Linked DNA regions of Homo sapiens. The protein of the gene in region 1 purifies or fractionates together with the protein of each later gene. This does not show direct contact. Each region holds a gene or a part of one and is shown in the gene's direction. Other genes may lie near its edges.

Region 1 (4,639 bases):
TTAATTGACATCATGTTCTGAAGACTTTCCCTACTCAATCTTGCTCCCTCTCCCCTTCATCTTTTTGTTTTGAATTTTTATTTTATTTTATTTTTTTCAGAGACAAGGTTTTGCTGTATTGCCTACTACACTGGAGTGCAGTAGTGCCATCATAGCTTACTGCAACCTCGAACTTCCGGGCTCAAGAGACCCCCCTGCCTCAGCCTCCCAAGTAGCTGGGACTACAGGGACACACCACCATCCCTGGCTAATTTTCTTTTTGTGTAGAGTCGGGGTCTCTCTATGCCGTCCATGATGGACTCAAACCCCTGAGCTCACATGATCCTCCTCCCTCGCTCAGCCTCCCCAAGTGCTGAGATTTACAGGTGTGAGCCACTGCGCCTGGCTCCCCTTTATCTTTCACAGGCATTTCCCAATAAATTTATTTCCTTTCTAATTCCTGTTGATAAATGCTTCATGGAGCACCCAAACTGGCATAGTTTATGATTTCTGATGTTCTATTCTATTTCGTTACTGTGAAAGGAGACCTGGTTTTCCATCACATTCTCCCCTAAGTGAGAACTCTGGGGAAGACACACTGACTGCTAGATTTTGCTTAGGATGTGCAAGCAACGTATGTCTGTCAGGCTTTGTCTAATCTGTGTTCTAGAATAAGGGGAGCTTATTCGAGAATGTCAACTTTCAAGATTGGACGTTTTTACTTTCTCTAAAGTACTTCATTTTAGAGAAATGAAGTATTTTTTTTTTCTTAAAATAAAATTATCTGGTGTTTTCCCTAAGGGCAAATGCCAGGAGCATATGCTCTATATGTTTTGCCTCGGGTGGGGTTGGGGTTAAATCCAGGGAGCATACACCCCGGGTTGAGGGCCAGGCGTATGCTCTCTGGAAGGTTATGTTTTATTTGAAGCCATTGTTAGAAATACAGCATTCTCATGAATTGTCTCCTTTTAACCTCTCTTCTCATTCTTGTCCTCCTTTTCACCTAAGCCCTAAGTGAGCCTGATGCTCTGTGGTTACAATCCCACCCTTGGACAATGCCCGCCATCAAGTATTCCTTGTTGTCACTTGTCATCCTCATCCTACACTCTTTCTATCACAGAAATGTCCTGGGACCTTTCACGCATTTATGACCTCCCCACGCTCCATGCCATTCTTCTCCTTGACATTGTATGTTTGTTTCAATGTTTACTTCAGAGAGGTCTTGGGGGCTATGGACTTCAATTCCATTAGCCACATCACAATTTTCAACAAGAATCTCCTGACTGAAATGTACTGAAATGGAAGAGAAAGTCCTCTCACCAGAATTGAGGAATGTCAAGGCTGGAAGGTATCTTAGAGATCATCTAATCCAGTTCTTGCTTCAGAAACGATTCAGGGAAGCAAGTGAAGTGACTTGGACTTTACCTATGGTAATACTCTCTCCCCACCCTCAACACTGCCCAGCTGGCATTTCTGTAGCCCCAACACCTCCCCCACACTGTGCCTTGGTGAGTGTTCACCAAGGAACGCTGCATTTTGATAAGCCTCAGTAATCAAGAGCAGCCTCTGCCCATAAATACACCTGCCCTGCTCCTGCCTGGGGTGATTCCCTCCGACTTGCGTCTGCTTCTCGCCAGCAGCCCCAGCATTATGCAGAGACTTGTGCTGCTATTAGCCATTTCTCTTCTACTCTATCAAGATCTTCCAGGTAAAAAGGGACTCTCAGCTGGAAATATACACAGTTGCTGGGGATGACAGGGGGAGAAGAAAAACATTTGATTTAGAAAATAAATCCTGAAGGATGGAGTAACCTTCTTCAATCTCAGCCTTTTTTCTCTTTGCTTTCATTGGGTCCATTAGTAAAATGCAGTATGTGGCAGTCCTTGTATGCACCTTACAGCCACGAGGCTTACTAGCTCAAGGAGGAAAAAAGAAACGTAGGGATCAGGAGTCCTAGATGTCCTTGGCACCCTGGCCACACACGGTAACAATTCCTCATGGAATCCTCAGCAATGAGGACTCACTAGCCATGCTTGTTCCATTGCAGGGCAACAGCAATTATTCATTGTTGATTTTGTAGAATAAGATGCCTTCCCCCATCCTCCTCCTTCTGAACAGCTTTACTCTGCACAGAAAAGGGCGCCTACTCATCCTCCTAAATTTTGCAACTTTTCATATCAAGTCAGATGATTAGGGTTAAAGGGGATGCAGTGATTTCAGTAGGCAAGAACGTAATTTACTGACAACACAAATAGCAGGTGCCTTTGAACTCTGCTCAGGAAATTTTAGACTGAGATGTCAGCAATCTTCTGACTCCTACGTTAATCTATGTCCCCAGAAGCATGTATTTCTTAATATATTTGCAATGGATATGAGAGAGCACCTAATCTAATTCCCTTCTTTTACAAGCTGAGCAGCATTCTCTATGGTACAGTGAGAGAAAATAAGATTTTTAGAGTTGCTTAACAAGTCTAGCAGTGCTGGGACGAAACCAATTGTTTTGACTCGTAGAAGCCATCGGATCTTCTCTTCCAAGCTGCTCAGTCAATTTTATGGGGCTTTGACAGACACCCAGCACCCATCTTTTTGCCCTTCCGGGCTGTGCCTCCACTGTGATTCAGATGGGTTAATGATTTTTTTTCAGAGGGTACCTGTTTAGGTTAACTCTTCCTTTTTCTTTCTTCCCGTGTCATTTCCCAAAGACACTTCTGTGAAATTCTGCTATGGGCATGTTCCAGGTCTGTTAAAATATGATAGCAATTTATCAAAGAACAGGTTTTCTTCAACCTTTGATCCCAAGACAAAGAACTTGGGATGGAAAGCCTGGGTCAGGGATCCCTCCAGATCCCGAAGAATGCACCGCAGAGCTGGCTGCCATTATCCACACTTGGCTGCAGAGGGCTGGGTCAGACTGTCCTCTGCAGTTGAATTCTGAGAAAGACCATTAGCAGGAAGAGGATTAGGGAGGGAAGTGGCAGAAGTGGGTGAGGGTGAATGACATGCGCTGCCTGCCTCTTCTCCTGCCACCCCTGCTTTGGGTAAGTTTGGCTGTCACACACTGTCAGCCCCTCAGATACCCACAGGGACTGGGGATGGGTGCTGTCAACCAAAAATAAAATTCTAAGCCCCCTCCCCAACCATCTAAATGGACTCCCTCCTCAGCCAGGGCTCTTAAAATTTAATCTGAAAGACTGCTTCAGGCCATGAAAGGAAGTGGGGGTTGGACATGCCTCATTACACTTTCCATCATGAACATCAACACAGACTTTAAGTGTGATAAGAAACATTTTACAGCCTGTTCTCTCTGAAGCCTGCTAGCTAAAAGCATCAACTGCATGATACAACTTTGGCCTCCACAATACAACCTCTTGTCGCAACCCAAACATTCCTGTCTATTGATCCCAGGTCTTTAGACAAACTCAATCAATTGTCAACCAGAAAATGTTTAAATTTACCTATAGCCTGGAAGGCCACCTGCCACACACTCCCACTGCACCCCCACAGGCCCCCCGCCACCCCCACTTTGAATAGTCCCACCTTTCTGGACCAAACCAATGTAAATCAGCCAGGTGTAGCGGCTCACACCTGTAATCTCAGCATTTTGGGAGGCTGAGGTCTGCAGATCACTTGAGGTCAGGAGTTCGAGACTGGCCTGGCCAACACGGTGAAACCTCGTCTCTACTAAAAATACAAAAATTAGCTGGGTGTGGTGGTGCATGTCTGTAATTCCAGCTGCTCAGGAGGCGGAGGCAGGAGAATCGCTTGAACCCAAGAGGTGGAGGTTGCAGTGAGCTGAGATCGTGCCATTGCACTCTACCCTAGGCGACAGAGCAAGACTCTGTCTCAAAAAAAACCAAAAAAACAAACAAAAAAAAAAACAAAGCAAATCTTACACGTCTTGATTGATGTATTATGTCTCCCTAAAATGTATAAAACCAAGCAAGCTGTATCACAACCACCTTGGGCACATGTCCTCAGGACCTCCTGAGGTTGTGTCACAGGTGTGTCCTCAACCTTGACAAAATAAACTTTCTACATTAACTAAGACCTGAGACCTGCCTAAGATTTTCTGGGTCTGTAGAGCAGAGGAGGAAAATTGCTTATGCAAGAAAGAAACTAGTGTAGTGTAGTCTACCCTGGAATGTATTTATTGCTTAGGAAATGTTTATTACTCAGCCTTAGTGTATGGACTGCATTCTCCCTTTTGCATTCTGTTTACTGAGACTGTAAGACATACCAACTAGGTTTTTCTTCCAGCTTTGACACATAAGTTGCTGTGTGACGTCAGATTAGTCACTTTCCTTCTCTGAGCCTTCATTCCCATCTCTAAATAGATGGCCTGTGAGGGCTTGTTTGAAACTGACAGTCTAACATTTTAAAGGTTGTGTTCTCTTCCTAGTCTATTCTTCTTCTCCCCTAACGCTAAGCTTCGTTTTCCCTGAGCAAGCATGCTGTCCTCTTTTTCCTCCTCTAACTCCAGGTTGTAAAGCGACCTGCCACAGATATGTCAGAAGGCACATATCTGCTACTCAACCTCCACATACTCCCTCAGCATGATACACACTGCAGCCCACCTCACTCCTTTCTTCATTGCCTTGTACTGTGACCACAAGGGCTTGCTTTTGAATGAAGCCTACAGCAAAACAGTCTTTCCTCATCA
Region 2 (3,500 bases), on another chromosome or scaffold:
AAGCTGAGATCTCGTATGTTAAGATACAACTTAGAATAAATTTTCATGTTTTGAATTACTTTCCTCTTAAAGCTGCTATGAACTAATTTTTTGAAGTGGGGGTCTCCTGTGGGTATTGCTCACTTTAGCTGTGACTGGGGGAAAGGTGCAGAGTAGCCTTTTGTGGAACTGAGTGAAGGAAATGTGGGGCCACTTGGGAAGCTGTTTCTGTAAGAACAGTGACATTCCCTCTAGGAATTACTTTGAAAAAGTTGAATTTCTTGCATTTGAAGACGCTGAAGAAACATGTACGGAATGCCCACTGTATAAGAGGCACCAGGCTAGGCTTTGGCAGTAGAACATAGGTAACACAGACTTCTCTTCTCTTGGGGTTTGCATTCTGGTAGGGGAGCTTGAGAATATGCCAGTAAACAAATACATACCCTTAAGTAGCCTTAATTGCTACAGTTGGGGAGCGGAGGGACAGTGTAGCTCTGAGTGGTCAAGGATGACCTCTGAGCAGAGAGCCAAGTGGTAAGAAGGAGCTAGCCATGCAAAGATCCAGGGAGGGGAATTCTGGGCTGCAGGAACAGCAGGTCCAGAGACCCTACAGTGGGGAATTAATTTGGATCAGTTGAGGAGCTATCAGGCCAGTGTGGTTAGACCAGAGGGAGTGAGGGGGAGAGGAGGGGATGGATTTAGAGATTGATGGAGGTGCTCTGGAAAGGTACTCGTTGACCACGCTGAGGATTTCCTTCTACTAGAAATGAGAAACCAGGGTAGATCTTGGCTGCAGTGTTACTTGATTGATTTTTTGAAAGACCTCTCAGGCCTCTGCGTGGAGATGATATAGGAAGGCAGGAATGGATGAAAGAAGCCCAGTTAGGAGGCAGTGGTAATGGTGGCTTGGACCAGTGTGTTTTCTATGAAGACAGGTGGTGGACTTGGAATTGACTTTCAAGCTTGAGTGTTCAGCCTCTGGACTATGGGCTCTGGCAAAGTAGCATTCTCAGCCTGCTCCTCTTAAACATTTGTTTGACCACATTCCTGAAAAATGTGGCTGCTGAGAGCTTAGGCTGGGAGTATTTACAGTTTGAGAGATGGGAGAGAGGCAGGGACTGGGACCGCCCCAGGTAAGTGGAAATGAGTTCTTGCCATTGGAGTCAGGTTCCAGATTCCAGAGACAGGGGAGAAGAAATGGATGGCAAACTTTGGGGGCTCCCTACTCCAGGTATGAGGTGTGTAGGTCCTCGGCTTCCACCCTACAGAAATCTGAGAGCATCTACAATCTTGGCAGAGTGGCTTTGGGAGTCAGATCAACCCAGTTGGCTCTGTCCCTTATTCACTCAGGGTCCTCAGGTAAGTCTTAGTCCCGTGTCCTCGTTTGCAAAGTGGAGCTAATGATCATGCTTAATGCCGAAGGTGGTGTGGCTGTGGAGACCCCCTCACTGTCACTGACAAATAGGAGCTGTCAGCAGCCCAGGTGCCACACAATGATGGTGACTGTGAGGAGGCCCCCCACAGCCCTTTCCTTTGCTATTGTCTGTGGACATTAAAGCTACTGGTCCCCAAGTAACTGCCATTAAAAATGACCTCCAGATGGCCGAGTGCAGTGGCTCACTCCTGTAGTCCCAGGACTTTGGGAGGCCAAGGAGGGTGGATCGCTTAAATCCAGAAGTTCATGACCAGCCTGGGCAACATGGTGAAACCCCGTCTCTAGAAAAAATACAACAATTAGCAGGGCACAGCGGCTCATGCCTGTAGTCCAGCCACTCGGGAGGCTGAGGTGGGAGATCACTTGAGCCTGGAAGGCAGAGGCTGCAGTGAGAAGATCACACCACTGACAGAGCAAGACTCTGTCTCAAAAAAAAAAAAAAAAAAAAAAAAAAAGAAGGACCTCCTCCTGAAACTCAACACTGGTAAATCAGAGCTTTCCCTTATCACCTTCAGCAAAGTGAGAAGGTCCACTTCTGAAAGCTAAAAAAAACTTCCTTGAAAATTTCAAGCAGTTCAAGTCTGAAAATGGTGGTGATGATTGTTTAAGCCAGATATAAGCAAACTTTTTCAGCTAAGGGCCAGAGAGTAAATGTTTTTCAGTTTTGCAGGCCACAGGTCTCTGCTGCAGCTACTTAATTCTGCCTTGTAGCACAAAAGCCACCATAGACAATACACAGCTGAGAGGATGTGATAGTATTTCAATTAAAACTTTGTTTGCAGAAACAGGCGATGGGTCTGATATGGTCCACAATCTGTCATTTGCCAACCCCTGGTTTACACAGAAATCTGCATGTGCCTGTTGATTAGTAAAGGACGTGAGTGACCTGAAGGTAAAACAAGCAAATCCCACATCAGTCAATGATCCTTCAGGTCTTGCTTCACTTCCATTCACCCTGTCCTTTGCCCTGTCTGCCTCCTCCAGTATGGTATTTATTTTTTAATGAAATCGCCATCATTTTAATGTTAGTGATTTATTTTAAGGACTTTGTGTGTACATTTGCTTTAAATCTGTTACACATTTATTTTTTCTTCATATTAAGGAAAAACAATTACTTTAATCAATACCTGGTCTCTGAAAAGAGTGATAATGTGTAAAGTTACACACTGTTATATTTTTATGAGTATCTCCAAACAGCTTGTTTAAATCCCTTTGGTGTTTCATAACATATTTTTAAGTCCTGTGAGTAGTGGCTTTAATATATTATCTCCCAGGGAAGAAGAAGAAGGGAATCCTTCTATAGAAGAAGTGGCAAACCCAGACACCTACAGAAACCAGTTAATACTAATGAGAAACAAGGACCAGGTGTTAGACATTAGGGAGTGGTAAGGACTGCAGCAAATTAAAGAGCACATGACTTTTCTAAAGAGGGCCATCTCACTCAGCTCCAACAGATTACTGCCAGTGAGAATGCCTAGTGAGCCAGAAATCCAGGTTTTTGTGCAGAACCCCCCAACTTTTAAGTAAGCTCAAATTTTTAAAACAATTTCTGCTTTTTAAAAATGTAGGCCAAACTAAACCCATCCCTGGGCCAGGTAGGAACCGCGGGTGGTCAACCTCTACTGTAGTGTTGATTGCTAGAGTTGCAACTTCCTGAGAAGCCTTTCAGAAGGCTTGAAGGCCTAGGTGTACTCCCTCCCTTTCACCAGGCTTTTTTCTAGCGTTTCTTTAGTGCAAAGCCCTCAGCTGGATGTCTGCTACATGGAAATCCAGCATGTGGTCCCATCCTGAGGAGCCACAGCGTGAGCCCAGAAGCCAACTGATGCAATGAAATGTTCTTGGGGGTACTATGCAGTACAGCATACCCTACAAAAACATTTCAGAGTGGGCATCATCTACAAATTCATCATTTGGTGCTGGGATTTTCCATTTTTGTTTCCTTAAATTAGGGAAACTCTTTTTTCAGGTTGAATCTTGCTCAGAAACTCAGTATGTGAACACTCATTGCTGAAGGTTTACTGACTGCATCTTCTGGCTCAGCCCTGAGTCAGGTGCTAAGGGGACATTCCACTTCAGGGGTCGGCAT

The links.
Region 2: the proteins of DEFB104A (region 1) and PTPRG purify together in Homo sapiens (affinity purification with mass spectrometry, with the first as the bait; one large-scale study listed by BioGRID). This does not show direct contact.

What each region holds. Positions count from the first base shown.
Region 1 is NC_000008.11:7,834,856-7,839,494, forward strand, and holds the start of DEFB104A (beta-defensin 104 precursor), read left to right. Parts: upstream 1-1,580; 5' UTR 1,581-1,629; coding exon 1,630-1,687; intron 1,688-4,639. UniProt on the Homo sapiens protein: Has antimicrobial activity. Synergistic effects with lysozyme and DEFB103.
Region 2 is NC_000003.12:62,205,071-62,208,570, forward strand, and holds part of PTPRG (receptor-type tyrosine-protein phosphatase gamma isoform 1 precursor), read left to right. Parts: intron 1-3,500.